2 separate regions of the Homo sapiens genome follow, and region 1 is linked to region 2. Evidence: fine-mapped expression QTL. A gene starts in region 2. The other region holds a variant in brackets. All regions are shown on one strand. Distances are between the middles of the regions.

Region 1 (5,378 bases), 34 kb after region 2:
ACCCACTCCACATTACCTTCTTTTCAAGGGCCTGTTTCCCTTGCCTCCATAACTGTTGTGGGTATTGACGGCCAGGCTTCTAAACCTCTTAAAACTCCCCAACTCTGGTGCCAACTTAGACAATACTCTTTTAAGCACTCCTTTTTAGTTATCCCCACCTGCCCAGTTCCCTTATTAGGCTGAGACACTTTAACTAAATTATCTGCTTCCCTGACTATTCCTGGACTACATCTATATCTCATTGCCGCCCTTCTTCCCAATCCAAAGCCTCCTTTGCGTCCTCCTCTTGTATCCCCCCACCTTAGCCCACAAGTATAAGATACCTCTACTCCCTCCTTGGCGACCGATCGTGCACCCCTTACCATCTCATTAAAACCTAATCACCCTTACCCCACTCAACGCCAATATCCCATCCCGCAGCACGCTTTAAAAGGATTAAAGCCTGTTATCACTCGCCTGCTACAGCATGGCCTTTTAAAGCCTATAAACTCTCCTTACAATTCCCCTATTTTACCTGTCCTAAAACCAGACAAGCCTTACAAGTTAGTTCAGGATCTGCACCGTATCAACCAAATTGTTTTGCCTATCCCCCCTGTGGGGCCCAACCCGTACACTCTTTTGTCCTCAATACCTCCCTCCACAACTCACTATTCCGTGCTTGATCGTAAAGATGCTTTCTTCACTATTCCCCTGCACCCCTCGTCCCAGCCTCTCTTTGCTTTCACTTAGACTGACCCTGACACCCATTAGGCTCAGCAAATTACCTAGGCTGTACTACTGCAAGACTTCATAGACAGCCCCCATTACTTCAGTCAAGCCCAAATTTCATCCTCATCTGTTACCTATCTCGGCATAATTCTCATAAAAACACACGTGCTTTCCCTGCTGATCGTGTCCGATTAATCTCCCAAACCTCAATCCCTTACAAAATAACAACTCCTTTCCTTCCTAGGCATGGTTAGTGCGGTCAGAATTCTTACACAAGAGCCAGGACTGCGTCCTGCAGCCTTTCTGTCCAAACAACTTGACCTTACTGTTTTAGCCTAGCCCTCATGTCTGCGTGCAGCGGCTGCCGCTGCTTTAATACTTTTAGAGGCCCTAAAAATCACAAACTATGCTCAACTCACTCTCTACATTTCTCATAACTTCCAAAATCTATTTTCTTCCTCATACCTGACGCATATACTTTCTGCTCCCCGGCTCCTTCAGCTGTACTCACTCTTTGTTAAGTCCCACAATTACCATTGTTCCTGGCCGGGACTTCAATCTGGCCTCCCACATTATTCCTGATACCACACCTGACCCCCATGACTGTATCTCTCTGATCCACCTGATACTCACCCCATTTCCCCATATTTCCTTCTTTCCTGTTCCTCACCCTGATCACGCTTGATTTTTTGATGGCAGTTCCACCAGGCCTAATCGCCACACACCAGCAAAGCCAGGCTATGCTATAGTACAAGCCACTAGCCCACCTCTCAGAACCTCTCATTTCCTTTCCATCGTGGAAATCTATCCTCAAGGAAATAACTTCTCAGTGTTTCATCTGCTATTCTACTACTCCTCAGGGATTATTCAGGCCCCCTCCCTTCCCTACACATCAAGCTCCAGGATTTGCCCCCACCCAGGACTGGCAAATTAGCTTTACTCAACATGCCCGAGTCAGGAAACTAAAATACCTCTTAGTCTAAATAGACACTTTCACTGAATAAGTAAAGGCGTTTCCTACAGGGTCTGAGAAGGCCACCACAGTCATTTCTTCCCTTCTGTCAGACATAATTCCTCAGTTTAGCCTTCCCACCTCTATACAGTCTGATAGCAGACCAGCCTTTATTAGTCAAATCAGCCAATTAGTTTTTCAGGCTCTTAGTATTCAGTGAAACCTTTATATCCCTTACGGTCCTCTATCTTCAAGAAAAGTAGAACGGACTAAAGGTCTTTTAAAAACACACCTCACCAAGCTCAGCCACCAACTTAAAAAGGACTGGACAATACTTTTACCACTTTCGCTTCTCAGAATTCAGGCCTGTCCTCAGAATGCTACAAGGTACAGCCCATTTAAGCTCCTGTATAGATGCTCCTTTTTATTAGGCCCCAGTCTCATTCCAGACACCAGACCAACTTAGACTGTGCCCCCAAAAAAAACTTGTCATCCCTACTATCTTCTGTCTAGTCATACTCCTATTCTCCGTTCTCAACTACTCATACATGCCCTGCTCTTGTTTACACTGCCAGTTTACACTGTTTCTCCAAGCCATCACAGCTGATATCTCCTCGTGCTATCCCCAAACTGCCACTTTTAACTCTTGAAGTAAATAAATAATCTTTGCTGGCAGGACTATGCTGAATCTCCTTAGGCACTCTCTAATCAGATGTCCTAGGTCCTCCCAATTCTTAGACCTTTTATACCTGTTTTTCTCCTTCTTATTCCATTTAGTTTTTCAATTCATACAAAACCATATCCAGGCCGTCACCAATCATTCTACACAACAAATGTTTCTTCTAACATCCCCACAATATCACCCCTTACCACGAGACCTCCCTTCAGCTTAATCTCTCCCACTCTAGGTTCCCACGCCGCCCCTAATCCCACTCGAAGCAGCCCTGAGAAACATCGCCCATTCTCTCTCCATACCACCCCCCAAAAATTTTCGTCGCCCCAACACTTCAACACTATTTTGTTTTATTTTTCTTATTAATATAAGAAGGCAGGAATGTCAGGCCTCTGAGCCCAAGCCAAGCCATCGCATCCCCTGTGACTTGCGCGTATACGCCCAGATGGCCTGAAGTAACTGAAGAATCACAAAAGAAGTGAAAAGGCCCTGCCCCGCCTTAACTGATGACATTCCACCATTGTGATTTGTTCCTGCCCCACCTTAACTGAGTGATTAACCCTGTAAATTTCCTTCTTCTGGCTCAGAAGCTCCCGCACTGAGCACCTTGTGACCCCCGCCCCTGCCCACCAGAGAACAACCCCCTTTGCATGTAATTTTCCATTACCTTCCCAAATCCTATAAAACGGCCCCATCCCTACTCCCTTTGCTGACTCTCTTTTCGGACTCATCCGGCCTGCACCCAGGTGAAATAAACAGCCATGTTGCTCACACAAAGCCTGTTTAGTGGTCTCTTCACACAGACGCGCATGAAAGGGGCCCCAAGGAGAGGTCTCATGTTCTCATTCTGCCTCCTCCCATTCCTCTTCAGATTCAGTTTGGAAGAGGTCTTTTTGAGGTTGAAAACCTGCCATTGATCTTCTTCCGCTTCTTTTCTCTATCTCATTTTACTGGGTTTTGGTTTGTTTGATTCT[G/A]TTCCTGGGCAAGTGACTTCCATATATTGATACTCTTAGAAAAACATCTTTTTACTTCAATCTTAATACTTTTGTTTGGATTTTATTTCATAGTTTTCTAGGAGGGCTGAGCTAAAACATGTCCTGAACACCTGCTGGGTGCCAAGCAATGTGCTCTGAGCTTCACTCTCTTGACCCATGCACAAGATACCTGCACTAGCTTGCCAGATGAGAACTTCCAGAAGGCAGTTGATGTTCAGTTTTATGGGGTTTGCTGCTGTGTTTGTTACCATGTGAGTGAAGACCTATCATCCCCTTAAATTTTGGAAAGATAGAATTGAGTGTTAGTTCTATCTTGAATGTATCTGAATATTAGTTAATTCAGCAGGGACGGAATGTTAGGCTAGAGAATGTAGTAATGAAGAGAATCTAGGGAACTGATGGAAGAGAAAGGATATGCCACTGTTCCTGGAAAGCTGATTTTACATTTAACCAAAGTACGGTACCATTTTATCGCGCTGACGGGAGGAAGATCTGGAAGAACTTTTCTGTGGCTGGTAGAGCTGTCCGCTAAGGCTGCGTTTTTAAATCCCTGTTCATTGTGAACAAATCAAATAGGTCTTTGTTGTGTTTCAGCTTCCCCGAGTCAGCTTGGAGGGAAAATGCTAGCCTCTCTCTGGCTCAAAGTTGTGAAACAAAGCAAGAAAAACAACAAACATAACATTTTAGAGTCTATACAGCATGACTCCCCTCTCCCTCCTTTTTGCCCTTTCCCATTTCAAAATGTCACAATTATTAAAGGTTACATGTTTGGAAGGAACAGGTACTAGTCTATGTGACAGAACAGACTATTTTAGGGTCGCCATGAGACCTATGTGTCCTTGGTTCCTATGTTCATACACAGACCAATGGGGAAAGTATTATTATTATTATTATTATTATTTTGAGACAGAGTCTCACTCTGTTGCCCAGGCTGGAGTGCAGTGGTGCGATCTCGGCTCACTGCAAGCTCCGCCTCCCGGGTTCACGCCATTCTCCTGCCTCAGCCTCCCTAGTAGCTGGGACTACAGGCGCCCGCTACCACGCCCGGCTAATTTTTTATATTTTTAGTAGAGATGGGGTTTCACCGTGTTAGCCAGGATGGTCTCGATCTCCTGACCTAGTCATCCGCCCACCTCGGCCTCCCAAAGTGCTGGGATTACTGATGTGAGCCACTGCGCCTGGCCCCAGTGGGGAAATTATTTAAATGTGTTGGCTATAAACTAGTGTTATGTCATGGATCTGGATATATGAGTATGGTTATAAAAATCAGGATGCCTGGCCTGATTTGGAGCTTGGAAGGAGGTTCTGCGGCTGTTGTACACAGATACTGGAGTATCTGGGAGATATCCTTTGGATGCTGAGGTGTGTCTGAGGCCAAAGGACAGAATATAGGAATATGGGAGAATTTAGGCCATGTGGTCATTGTTCACGGGGCCACTAGTTTCACTCACTAAAGGAGTGGGTTCGTAGCTGCGTTGGAGACTGCAGCACACCCGTAGCAGTACTGTTTCTCATGCAGTGGCTTTCCCACAGAGCCCAGCTCAGGTTTGCTGGTCTCACATCAAAGTGCATTCAAAGTGGGGAGATTGACAAAGATGCAGGTTCTGGGTCCTGTGACCAGAAATTCGGACTCCTTTAGTCCGACATGAAGCTTCATCTGCCTTTGTAACTAGCTCTGCCCATGGCCGTGGCCCACAGGTTGAGAAACTTTGTCCAGCCTATTACCATTCAGTTGTATGTTTTGAGCTGTCTTTTATTACTAAGTGAAAACTGGGTGAGATTGTTGAAGAGGGACGATTGCCACAGGGGTTTCCTGTGTTCTTAATCTCCTGAAACTTGAGGACCTCATGGTTACACCCTGCCCTACAAGTTTTCTCTTACCCGTTTATTCAGGATGTCACACAGCATTATTTATTAATATTTGAAAGGTCTACCCCTGAGTAAGGAGGGTGGATATATATTTTTTTAAGTGGAAGAAACCAAACTTCAACTCCTATAGCTCTCTGTGCTTGAATCTTGTAACAGGCTGCTCTTATAAGCAGTGCCCCAG
Region 2 (5,378 bases):
ATCCCTAGTGATAGATTCACATTACAGATCTGAGCCTGCCCTAGTAGTTAGTATACACCTGTCAGATTCAAGGCTTCCCACCATCTTTTGAATAGCCTTCCCTTTTTCGGGAGGAAATTCCAATATTCTACGTCTTGCCTCCCCGAGGAAGGAGTTCAGACCCCAATTCCCAGTCTCCTTTGTAGCCAGGACCCAGGTGTGGGGCCCAGACTTCCTCAATCAGACATCCCTATGAGCTTTTGATGTGGAAGTGAGCAAGGTGAAGAAACAGGCTCTTTTGGAAGTTTGGCATTATGCAGGAGGCTGCAAAAGCATGTGGGATTTGATGTTAACAGTGGCAGTGGCAGCCATTCCCCAGTGAATCCCAGCAGTTGTGATGGCGATTTCCTCCAGCAGCAATCCCAGTCTTAGTATTTTCCTCATCAGGCCAGTTTTCAGCTTGGTTCTGAGCTTCATTCTTGGAAGCTTAGCCTGGGGCCACTTCTCCATCCTCCCTAGAATTCCCTGAGCTGTACAGCATCCTTTTAATACACACCTTTTCTGCTTAGTCAGCCAGAGTCAGCTTCTACTGCTGAAAATTAAGAACCCTGATAGTAAAGACTCCCTGCTAAAAACTGTCTAGCGGCTTCCCATACATTCTAGAATATGTCCCAAACCCTGTGCTTAGCCCAAGGCTCTTCTTTATCTGGGATGTACCTATGCTGTCCATCACTCTGGTCACACAGAGTCATCCTGGTCCTGGCACCATTCCTCACTGCTCACTACTAAAGAATCCTACGGGCATGGCAAACCTCCTCTATGTACCCTCTTAAAACCAAAATGTATTCAAACACCCATGCTAACATTCTTAAATATCTGCTAGCCATAATAAAAAAATCAATGTACTTTACAATCTTAACTCCCACAATTTAGCCTAAATATTTGCCCTAACATATTTATACTAGTTCAAACAAACATTAAGTCATAGCCTATTCCTCTTCCTTAAAGGGGTGTTGACCTTTCTCAACATTCCACAAGTTACTTCCTCCTTGCTTTGTTCTCCTCTGCCTTTGCCTCTTTTAAAAAGTTCTAAATTACTAGCCAATCAAGACAAATACAAAATATAAAGTCCCATTCCAGCCAATAAAAACCAGACACAGGCCAGGCGCGGTGGCTCACGCCTGTAATCCCAGCACTTTGGGAGGCCGAGGCGGGCGGATCAGGTCAGGAGATCGAGACCATCCTGGCTAACACGGTGAAACCCCATCTCCACTAAAATAATAATAAAATAATAATAATAATAATAATAATAATAATAATAATAATAATACAAAAATTAGCCAGGTGTGGTGGCGGGTGCCTGTAGTCCCAGCTACTCGGGAGGCTGAGGCAGGAGAATGGCGTGAACCCAGGAGGCGGAGCTTGCAGTGAGCCGAGATCACGCCACTGCACTCCAGCCTGGGCGACAGAGCGCGACTCCATCTCAAACAACAACAACAACAAAAAAAAACAAAAACAAACAAAAAACCAGACACAGCAGTAAAGTGGACACATCAGGTTATATATGACCCTGTCTCCTTTGTTCGGTGTACTCTCGTGACAAAACTGCTGGCGAGTATACCCTTTCTACAAAAAATAAAAATGGCCTTGCTAAAAAAATTAAATTTATATTCAAGTGCTATTTCTTTACAACATCAAAAAACAAACATTTCTAACAATCCCATTCCTCAGGTCTGTATTTATGTCTATCATAAAGCAGAGACTTTTTACACTCTACTGAAAGAGCTGATTCACTCAACTGTAAACTTTGCATGGGCAGAAACATGTCTTTTTGGTCTCTTGAGTCTCCAGCATGTGGGGTATCTGTCACAAAGTAGGCAATCAATACATATTTATTTGCAGAATCAAGGGCAGGATGTGGACAAGTGCTGCCACCTATTGGGAGAAACTTTATTTGACTCTAAGGATTTGGACTATGGTTATCACACAAGGACGAAACTTGATACTCTCTCTCATCTAAGTTATCATTAGTTAGACCCTCTATGGTAGCCAGCCTCCAGGATGGCCCGCAGCGATCCCTGTCTGTTGGCATTCATACCTTTGGCTGGATCCTCTCACACATAGGGTTGGTTTGTAAATATGACAAAAGCCGTATGTGACCTCTGGAGCTAGGTCATAAAAGACATTGTGGCTTATACCTTGGTCTCTCTGGGATCACCTGCTCTGAAGGAAGCCAGCTGCCATGTCATGGGGACACTCAAACAGCCCTATGGGGAGGTTCACGTGGTGAAAACAGGTCTCTGGCCAACAGTCATGACTGTGCCATCCTGGAGGCCGATCCTCCAGCCCTAGTCAATAACTGCTGCCCTGGCCTACAGTTTGTAATCTCATGGGAGACCTGGAGACAGAACCACCCAGCCACGCATCCCCAAATCCCTTTACCTCTAAAACCTGTGGGACAACAAATGTTTATTGCGTTAAACTTTGGGGTGATTGTTATGCAGCCACAGAGTTCTAATAAACTGTCGGACATAGATTACTGGCTACAAATAGTTCTACTTTTTTTTTGAGACAGGGTCTCGTTCTGTGGAACCAGGCTGAGGTGCAGTGGTGCGATCACAGCTCATTGAGGCCTCGACCTCCGGGCTCAATCGACCCTCCCGCCTCAGCCACCCAACTAGCTGGGACTACAGGCAGGCGCCACCACACCTAATTTTTTGTATTTTTTGTAGAGATGGGGGGGGGGGTTTCACCATGTTGCCCAGGCTGGTCTCGAACTCCTGGGCTCAAACGATCCACCCGCCTCGGCCTCCCAAAGTGCTGGGATTACAGGCGTGAGCCACCGCGCCCGGCCAACCTAAGGATTAACCTAAGGCTTCTCAGAGCAGATGCCGCTGGAACTGAGGGCCACGGAAGAAAGGGGGTGACACTTGGTCCTGGGGAGTGGCGACTGTATTGTCTGTCTGCAGCATCCCTATCAGCGCTACCGTTGTTCCACGCACACAGGGAGTAAGTACTGGGAGTCCCAGCCACCGCCGCGGAAAATCTGGGATGCCAGCGAGCGGCCGCATCTCGGCGCCTGCGCACTGTGCCCGCGCTCTCAGGCAGCGCCGTTGCGCGCGGAGTCATCGATCGGCCGACCCCGAGAGGCCCGGTTCCTTTAGGCCGCCTGCCCGCCTCCAGCTCTCGGGGTCGGCTCCAGGAGGCGCCCTCAGGAGAGGGGCGGGCGCTCTATTCCAGAGACCGAGTGGCAGGGCGGCCACTGTGGCGGGGCTCTTTCCCCGTTTCGCCTCAGCTACCCCTCAGCTCCGGTAGTCGCCAGTCCGGGGTCGTCGCCGTTTGGGGCGGGAGCTGCTCGGCCCCGCCGCCGTCCCCGTCGCCGCTTCCGGGTCCAGGCCCCTCGGGCCGCCTGCCGCCGTCATGAGGCTGCGGGTGCGGCTTCTGAAGCGGACCTGGCCGCTGGAGGTGCCCGAGACGGAGCCGACGCTGGGGCATTTGCGCTCGCACCTGAGGCAGTCCCTGCTGTGCACCTGGGGGTACAGGTACGCTGGGGCCGGGGCTGGGCGGCCCGCGGGGAGTGGGGAGTGCTTGGGGTGGGTGCAGGGCGGGTTGGCGTCATCTGTGGGCTGCAGGCGCGGGCGTGGCCGGGCGATAGGCCAAGTGCGGGGACGCCGGGGGGGCCTTCACGGGAGGCCCGGGCTCTTCCGGGCGTCGCGGAGCCGGAGGGTGCAGGCGACGGGAAGCGCGGGTGGTCGGCTGGGGTCCGGCTCCTGGAGAACATGGCCCGGCCTCCCGGGGGCTCTGGTCCCCTCCTCGGTGAGTCATGGCTTCTGGTTTTGCAGTAAACGGAACCAGGGAGAGGAGGGAACGCACAATTTCCACAACTGGTTAGATTTCAAGTTGGAAATGATGAGCTTGGCTTGGGTTAAACCTTTCTGGACTGTGAGGGGTCCGAGTTAATTTCTTCAGCTGTTGGAGTATTTCAATGAAAAAGTTTGGAAATTGCTAGAAGTTAAAAATCTGCCCTCAATCCGAGGCCACCGGTAGCTTGTATCGCTGCTGTGAAGCGGCAACAATTTTAGATTCTGTTGTGTTCATGCGCCGAGCACCGCGGTGAGCGCTTGGACTTCGCCGCCGAAAAGTTTTAGAAAGGACAGCGTGTAGGCGTGTTTCAGACCATTTCATTTTCTTGGGTGAAATGTTGCTTTTTTGCTAAAACTGAGGCAAACGTTGATCTTGAGAGCTTGCAGTTTGGGGGCAGTAAAGTTGAGAAAGGATCATATTCTGTTATTGGTTTGTGGGACTGCAGGTGAAGCTGCTTTGTTTCCCTAAAAGATACTTTTTGGGGACAATAATTTGGGAGTAAAGCGGCAAGGTAAGAGTGGTCCTCTTCAAATACTGAGCTAGTGAATTTGAAACTTGAGTGTGCTAAGGAAAAATGAAAAAGATGTTCCCTGGGGATTTTTAGGTGAATTCTTCAAAACAAAAGCAAACCTTCCTACGTTTTCACCTTATTTTTAGGGAATTGGGTAAAATGAGGCCGTTATTCTGAACTTCTCGCCCTTTCATTTTCCTGGTTAAGACATTATTAGATTGAAAGTAAGCCTGTTTTCTTCCTGATTAAAAAAAAAACCCTAAATAAGATACTGACATAACTCCTTTTAAACATTATAGTAAGTGACATGCCTACTGTTATTTCTTGTTGTTAAACCTGTGTGTTTTACATACTGGCATCGTTACCAGTAGGTTACGAGTAGAAGATTGAATAAATCTTCAAACTTATTTTTTAAAGGTATTACCAAGTATATATATATTTTATTATTTTTAAATTAGGCAGTCTTGAAAGGACGTGAAACTCAATATGACTGCCCAAAAGGGCACGTTGGTTTCTCTTTCAGATTTCTTTTTACAGTTGAGGCTGGTTACCTGGACAGAATTTAAGCTTCAGCTTGTGAAAGTAAACTCATTTTTTCTGAAAGTATACTCATTTTCTAATAAAGGTGCAGTTTTAAAATATGTCCATGTGATATTATTTTAAAAATATCTTTACTGAGCAAGTGGAGCTAGGATTGTCATGAAATGCTTTTATTTGTTTTGTTTTTGTTTTTTAAGAGAAAAGTGAAAGCAAGTTTATTAAGAAAGTAAAGGAATAAAAGAATGGCTACTCCATAGGCAGAGCTGCCATGAAATACTTCTAAGAAGGCTGGAGTTTCTAGAATTTCATTTCCTGGAATTAAATACTCCTCTTAACGCCCCAATTTCAGAGGTAGAATCCTGGAAAACTATATATTACTTTAGAAATAGCTTTTCCCTTTTTCTAAAGTGGGAGGAAGAGCTGGTATATTTATTAAGCGGACCATGACCTTTTCTGCAAACAGATACTTGAACGTACCTTGTAC

Evidence for each region. PIP is the estimated chance that this variant, and not a neighbour inherited with it, causes the effect. A credible set is the group of variants that fine-mapping cannot tell apart.
Region 1: its variant is the best candidate, but not a certain one, in a credible set for the expression of FBXO7 in tibial nerve (GTEx, PIP 0.84).

What each region holds. Positions count from the first base shown.
Region 1 is chr22:32,505,356-32,510,733 of GRCh38, forward strand. SYN3 (synapsin III) reads right to left here. Exons shown (of 14, transcript NM_003490.4): 14 at 2,465-5,378. Among named protein-coding and RNA genes, the nearest start is that of FBXO7, 33 kb to the left of the region's middle. The variant G/A (reference allele first, on the strand shown) is at 3,308.
Region 2 is chr22:32,471,604-32,476,981 of GRCh38, forward strand. FBXO7 (F-box protein 7) reads left to right here and starts at 3,208. Exons shown (of 9, transcript NM_012179.4): 1 at 3,208-3,521. The coding sequence starts at 3,400. RefSeq lists enhancers at 2,183-2,242, 2,968-3,468, 3,131-3,300, 3,469-3,969, 3,555-3,724 and silencers at 3,289-3,478, 3,489-3,798.